Linked DNA regions of Homo sapiens. The protein of the gene in region 2 interacts with the protein of the main gene of each other region in a pairwise test. Each region holds a gene or a part of one and is shown on either strand. Other genes may lie near its edges.

Region 1 (3,051 bases), on a different chromosome or scaffold from region 2:
TCTGCTGCCTTGAAGGTAGCTGGTAGATCTGGAGCTGCAGCAGCTATCTTGTGGCCATAAGGTAGGAAACCAATGGGCTAAGGATAGCAACACAGGAAGGCAAAAGGTGCCTGGTATGTTGATACCACACTGGCTGCACCAGCCCTGGGCTGTCTCCAGTTTTTCATTAAGCAATAAAAAAAAGTTCCCTGTGTGTTTAAACTAGTATCTACTTTGGTTTTTTTCATTATTTGCCACCTAAACCATTCCTCCCTGATAACAAAAAACTAAGAAAGAAGCCTTTCCTTTTCTTAGTAAAGATGTAAGGAAGCTAGTTATGCTCAGGCTGGTTTGGAAGATTATGATATGGGGTAGTGAGTTTGGTGGCTCTGCAAATAAACACAGCTGCCCAGGGCCCCTACTTCTCCTGAGCTGCAGGCCCTGGAAGGTCTTGCAGTCTCCATAACCAAGCAGTGTGGTTTTGCCCCTCAGAGGCTAGCTGATCTACATAGGAGGCAGGTCAGTGTATTTGATCTAAATATTGTTTAGTTGGGTTTCATATGTAAGGGAAACTTACAGTTTTGTTTCCTTTTTCTTTTCTTTTTTAAAAATTTAAGCTGTATTATCTTTTATGTTTTAGGGCCAAAATTCCATTAAATCATGAAATAAATTATATAGCTCCTCTTCCCCCCATTCCATGCTTTCGATCATTTAATGAGGGAGTTATCTTTTTTTGAGTTATAAAGAATTCACTAATGCAGGCTGGGTACAGTGGCTTACACCTATAATCCCAGCATCTTGGGAGGCTGAGGTGGGTGGATCACTTGAGCTCAGGAGTTCAAGACCAGCCTGGCCAACATGGTGAAACCCCACCTCTACTAAAAACACAAAAATTAGCCATGCATGGTGGTGCACACCTATAATCCCAGCTACTCGGGAGGCTGAGACAGAAGAACTGCTTGAACCCAGAAGGGAGAGGTTGTGTGAACCAAGATCAAGCCACTGCACTCCAGCCTGGGTGAGAGTGAGACTCGTCTCAAAAAAAAAAAAAAAAAAAAGAATTCGCTAATGCAAGGGTTCTCAGATGAAAACCATGTTCACAATAACATGACCTATTATATGCCTTTTTCACTCACATTCTCTCACAAGGGAACAGTGCAATTTTTCAAAATATATTTGGAAGATCTGCATGACTCAATGAATTGATATTCTCCCATTGACCAATGGGTAAAGTTAGAAAATCATGCATGATAAAGATCAATTTAAAGTGTGACACAGACCTGAAGATTTCAATAAAATAGAGTAGAAAAATTTCACATTTCAGCTAACCTTTAAGAAACTATCACTTACGGAGTTTTGGTGGACTATCATAGAATATCCACAATCGTTTAAAAAAGCTTTGCCTCCCTCTCCCAACCGCATGTTAGTGATGCTAGGTCTTCTTCAAATACTCCAAACAGGACAACATAGCACAACAGAATGAATGCAGCCACACAAACGAGAAGCCGGCTGACAACTGTTAAGGCAGATATGAAAGAGATCTGTAAAATGTAAAATAATACCACTCACAAATTTCATTTTGTTTTGGAAAATATAGTTACTTTTCATTAAAATTTGTTATTTATATCAACAGGTAATATTGTTCCTTTTAAATGAATAGATATTTTTAAAATTTATGCTATGATTTCTCATAGAATAATTATTTCAGAACAAGAAACAATGAGGAAGAAAATTTTTTAAAAAGAAATAATTATTAATATTCTTTTTTTTTTTTTTTCCAGACAGAGTCTAGCTCTGTCACCCAGGCTGGAGTGCAGTGGTACAATCATAGCTCACTGCACCCCCAACCTCCCAGGCTCAGGCCATCCTCCCTCCTCAGCCTCTTGAGTAGCTGGGACCACAAGCATGCACCAGCTAATATTTAATTTGATTTAATGTAATTTATGTTATGTTTATTTTAATTTATTTTATTGTATATAGTTTTATGTCATGTTAGTTATTTATTTTATATTTCAGCTCATTTCATTTGTTTTTTGAGACAGGGTCTTGCTCTGTTGCCCAGGCTGGAGTGCAATGGTGTGATCACAGCTCACTGCAGCCTTGAACTCCTGGGCCCAAATGATCCTCCCATCTCAGCCTCCTGAGTAGCTGGGACTACAGGCACGCACCACCACAGTTGGCTAATTTTTGTATTTTTTGTAGAGATGTGGTCTTGCCATGTTGCCTAGGTTGGTCTTAAACCCCTGGCCTCAAGTGATCTTCCCTCCTTGGCCTCCCAAAGTGCTATTAATACAATTAACCACATAAATAACATCTCTTCAGATGCCTCAATAATTTTTAAGAAGGTAAAATGGGACTTGAGAACAAAAAGCTTAAGAACCTCTGCCCACGTGGAAACAATTGGTTGGCAGCAATAGGGGAAGATAAGGAGATCAAGTACAAATCCTGGATTTGTTTTTCAATTTCTTCATTGATAAGTAGGGAGTCAGATTCTGCTACTTCCTGTGGTATAATCTTTAAGAACTCACCCTGTTACAGCAGCGTTCAGAGGCAGGGAGGAATTTTATTTCAGAAGCATCACCCTCAATATGCAAAATAGGCCAATATTTCTCCTTTTACATCTTTTAAGACTGGGAGTGAGTTAGTGCCTTACGCCTATAATTCCAGTTCATTGAGAGGCCAACGGGGGAGGATTGCTTGAAGCCAGGAGTTTGAGAATGGCCTGGGCAACACAGCAAGACCCCATTTTATAAGTAAAATACAAATGAACAAACAAAAGACTAAGAGTGATCAAAGCGATTTTTGAAAAGGTGATTATGACTCCAGGGTTGATTCAATTAAGCAATCCTATAAGAGCCATCCTTGAGCAATTTTATATTATACCCACTTCACCCTTTATTTTTCAACATAGGAATAATAACAGGATAAACTTTTGGTAAGGAGTTCAAGGGCTGTTTTGTAGAAAAACAAAACTCAGGATATCAGTTCTTATAGAGCAATGGTTGGCCAAATCCAGCAAGCTGCCTGTCTTTGTAAATAAAGTTTTACTGGAACACAGCCATGCCCATGCAT
Region 2 (3,830 bases):
GCATATAGTTAGGAAAGAGAGAGAGAGAGAGAACAGGAACAGATGCAAATGTAGTTTTCATAATATCAAAGTTCAATACAGCTACCACACAGAAAAAGACATATCAATAATATATTGTACAAGCTTTTACAGAAACACATGTTGATTTGCAACACTGTACAGTTCAGATCTAAAGTGCACAACCCCAATCTGAGGTGACAAGACAGTATTATCCAGATAATAAAGGCAACACAGTCAGAATTGATTTCCTTTTCTTTCCTCACATCCTGTGGCAGTATATGAAGTCCATACCATGTATAGGTCTCAGATAAAGACATATCACACTTGTTTGTTCAAGTATTTTAAATGATAAACACAATATTGCTGTATAAATGAAAATGGCCATGTCAGTTCTGATTAAAGCTAAAACCAAACTTTTCTAAGATTTGTAAAGAATGGGCACACATAAAGACCATGGCACTGGGAATTTGGGCTAATATTAAAAATAATCTCCCTTCTTTCCTCCCTCCCTCCCTCCCTTCATTTCCTTCCTCCCTCCCTCCTTCCCTCCCTCCCTCCCTCCCTCCCTTCCTCCCTTACTCTCTTCTGACCTGATTCCACATCTCCTTTCAAGATGATTTATTAAACTACTGGGACCTACTAGGCTTTTATTTGCTTCCTTCTTTGGGCTACAGTTGGTAAGGATTTCCCTGCACAGGCCTGAGCAAGGCTCTCAGCCAATTTGAAGGAGTACTGGGAAGGGGTAGGGGAGCGGGGAAGAAGAGCTATTGTTGTTGCTAGAATTGTTTTGCTGGAATTTCATATATAGGCACAAATTGTCCTTTAAAATTTTACCATCTCATTAACCTAAAAAGCAGCAGTTTATAATCTAGGATCTGTAACTCAAAAGATAAAGCATCCTGGAGTACAGCAGGGTTGGTTCACCAGGGCACTGGGCCCCACTGTCTTCTCCACGAAGGACAGCAGGTTGGATCAATTAGCATCTCTGTCTCTGAAGTGGAACCTTTGGGCCTGAGGCTCCGGATAGTCGGGCAGCTATGTGCTTATTCTCAGCAGGCAGTTTTGAGAAAGGAACTGCTTTCTAATGCTTTGTCTAATGCTTGGCCATTAGACAAAGCCTAGAATGGAAGGTTACTCCTTCATGAAATTCTGCGGGACAGATGAAAGAGTTTATTTCTGATTGTCATAGTGAACCCATTTGTTTTTCTAGACAGAAAGGGCCCAAAGCCATGTTCATATCAAGTTATCACTGTTTTTGCATATAGCCTAGGAGAAATAATGTAGGGGGAAGCTTATGAAAATTTCAGATGGCTGGATCCTGTGGTTATATTATAGGGCATTTCTCTATGTTATATTGTAGGGCATTTCTACCCGTTGAAGGGCAGGGCCTTCTCTCTTCCCTTGTATACCTGCAGTCTGAGTACTGAACTACCTGGTCCATTCAGAAATGGAGAATGTTCCTAAATTTGCATTTGCAGTCTGCATATCAATCTATTGTTCTCCAATCAGCACTTGGAATCTGACGATGTGTGACCCCATAAATATCTATGGAAGCTTTTGTTAGCTCATGTTTTTCTATCAGGTTCACAGGGAAAGAAGGATGTTTTAAAAATACTATTTTGAATTCTAAGGATCTTATTATTTCTGCATATTCTGGTCACTTTGGATCTCGATGGGAGATGGATAAAGGAAAATCTTAAGATAATGCCTCAAAATCTAGGGTGAGAGGCTCATTTCATGGAAGAAAAACAACCACCCATGGAATATAAAGTAACTATTTTGGGTCCCAGTGGTAGGGAGTCTAGTGGGAGAGACTTTGTGGGGAGGAATGGGGAGGGGATGGAAATGCGCAACTGGCCTGGAGGTAAATTTCTCTTTCCTGGACAGTGGCAATATGGCGCCAGGATGATGTCATTATTGTCCCACAGAGATCTCTTCTCCCAAGGCCAACTTTAATTTTCTGGGCTCACCACATTCTGGGAGTGTGCTTCATTCCTCTTTGCTCAGGCTGATAAGGTTTTATTTTTACTTTCTCTAATTAATTCAAATGACCTAATAAAAGAATACTATTTGGAAGATGCCTCAAGAACTAGCATCAACCTTCTGTTCAAAACAGGCCGAACTGGAAAGCAGAATAGAGACAATTACCCTAATTTAATCTGAGATGAAGCCTGGTTTGTCACGCTTGCAGAGTGAGTCCGCTAAGAGTAAAATGGGTGGAAAACTTAAAGGGGAAGAGAATCTTACTGCCAATGGGATCAATTATTTTAAAGAACTCGCAGTATTCTTTTGTGTTTGTCTTGAAATACTAACTTTAGAGATGTGATAAGCCATAACATGTATAGAAAGAAGCAATAATACCTTTTAAGAATTTCGTGGGTCAATGTTTCAAAATAACTTTGCTAAGTGTTTTATTGTGCCTCCATTAAGAGAAAGGAAAAAAAAATCTGGCTTAGATTTTATATCTGCCCCCGCAGTTTGTATAACCTATATAAAATAAAAATCTATATGTTACAAAATAGGATATCTTTTTTAATATATATATTTTCCTTTTGTAAAATTATATGTATTTAAATACATTTGAAATGTTGCTATAGGTAAATTAGAAATTTTTTTCTAATACTATGAAAAAGGCAAGAGTTTTTATTGTCAACATATATTTTATATTTACTTTGTCCTTTTTACTGCACCCCAAAGAACCTTTTATGATTCAGGGGCAATTTGGCACTATTCAGTCCTACTAGTCTGAAGTGAAAATAAAGTTTGCTTTGCACACTATATTAAAAGTAAGGGAAGTATTTATAACAATTTTAAGCTTTTCCTTATTGATTAGAACATAGCCTTTTGTCACGAATTCTTAGAGAGGTATTCTAAACTTAAGAAAGGACTTTTAAAAGGAGCAATGTCTTTTTTGTTTAATTTTTAAACTCTACTTTGACACCACAATATAGAAATAGATTTACTTTGGAACAAACTACAAATACATTCACACAGTTTGTGACAACTTAATTGTCTACCTAGAGAAGTGGAACAGCTTGGTGAGCAAGGTTATTATAAATCTTGTCCAAGGCGTTCTATTTCTTCAATCAGGAAGTCAATGTCTTGGTGAGTTGCCGCTGGGTTTGAGATGACCATGCGGAAGAAATTGACCTTGTCTCCCAAGGGTTGGTAGCTGACCATTGTGGTTCCATACTCCATCATTCTGGCTTTAATCACTGGAGCCACCTGTGGGACAGACCATATCAGCATGGTGACTTTCTCCTGGGACTCTCCCCTGAGTCAAAGAACCCAACAGCAAGCAGCGTCTTTAGTTTTTAGCTCAACAGTCAGAACCTTATTGTTTTCTCTTGAAAGAGTTACCTCCAAGTTTTCTTGGGATCAGAGAATTAGAACAGTCTAACACATTCAAGATCCTGCAAGTGATAAGAGGAATAATAAGTGATAGACTATCAGCTGCCTGCCACCTTGTCCTTGACTTTCCAGTTAGTGTTTTGGGAGGATGGGATGAATCTAGTATTGGCCCCAAGCTAAATGGGTTAGCAAGACGTTTGGGGGCATTTTCCCCCCACAGTAAATGTAAAAACATTGGAAATAAACAGTTCAGAGGATTGTTACCAAAATGTAAGTTTGAGTGTCAGGTGATATATGAAGATAAGCAGACTTTTGGCAACTTTCTTGAAACCCCAGAGCTTTCTAGTTTCTTTTCGTTCTCTCTTTGCAGTGCCTCACTTTATAAGATATTTTGAAAGATAATCCTTAATAATGATGATAATTAGCTGGGACAAAAAGCTGAACTCACAAGGACTTAACATATGTTTCATATCACAGAC

Evidence for each region.
Region 1: the proteins of GAD2 (region 2) and LDAF1 interact in binary tests that used the Homo sapiens proteins (3 or more experiments, as listed by UniProt).

The regions. Positions count from the first base shown.
Region 1 is NC_000016.10:21,175,606-21,178,656, reverse strand, and holds part of LDAF1 (lipid droplet assembly factor 1), read right to left. Parts: intron 1,521-3,051; coding exon of another isoform or gene 1,499-1,520; exon of another isoform or gene 1,496-1,498; coding exon of another isoform or gene 1,423-1,495; exon of another isoform or gene 1-1,422. UniProt on the Homo sapiens protein: Plays an important role in the formation of lipid droplets (LD) which are storage organelles at the center of lipid and energy homeostasis. In association with BSCL2/seipin, defines the sites of LD formation in the endoplasmic reticulum.
Region 2 is NC_000010.11:26,300,183-26,304,012, reverse strand, and holds part of GAD2 (glutamate decarboxylase 2), read right to left. Parts: intron 3,226-3,830; coding exon 3,052-3,225; 3' UTR 1-3,051. UniProt on the Homo sapiens protein: Catalyzes the production of GABA.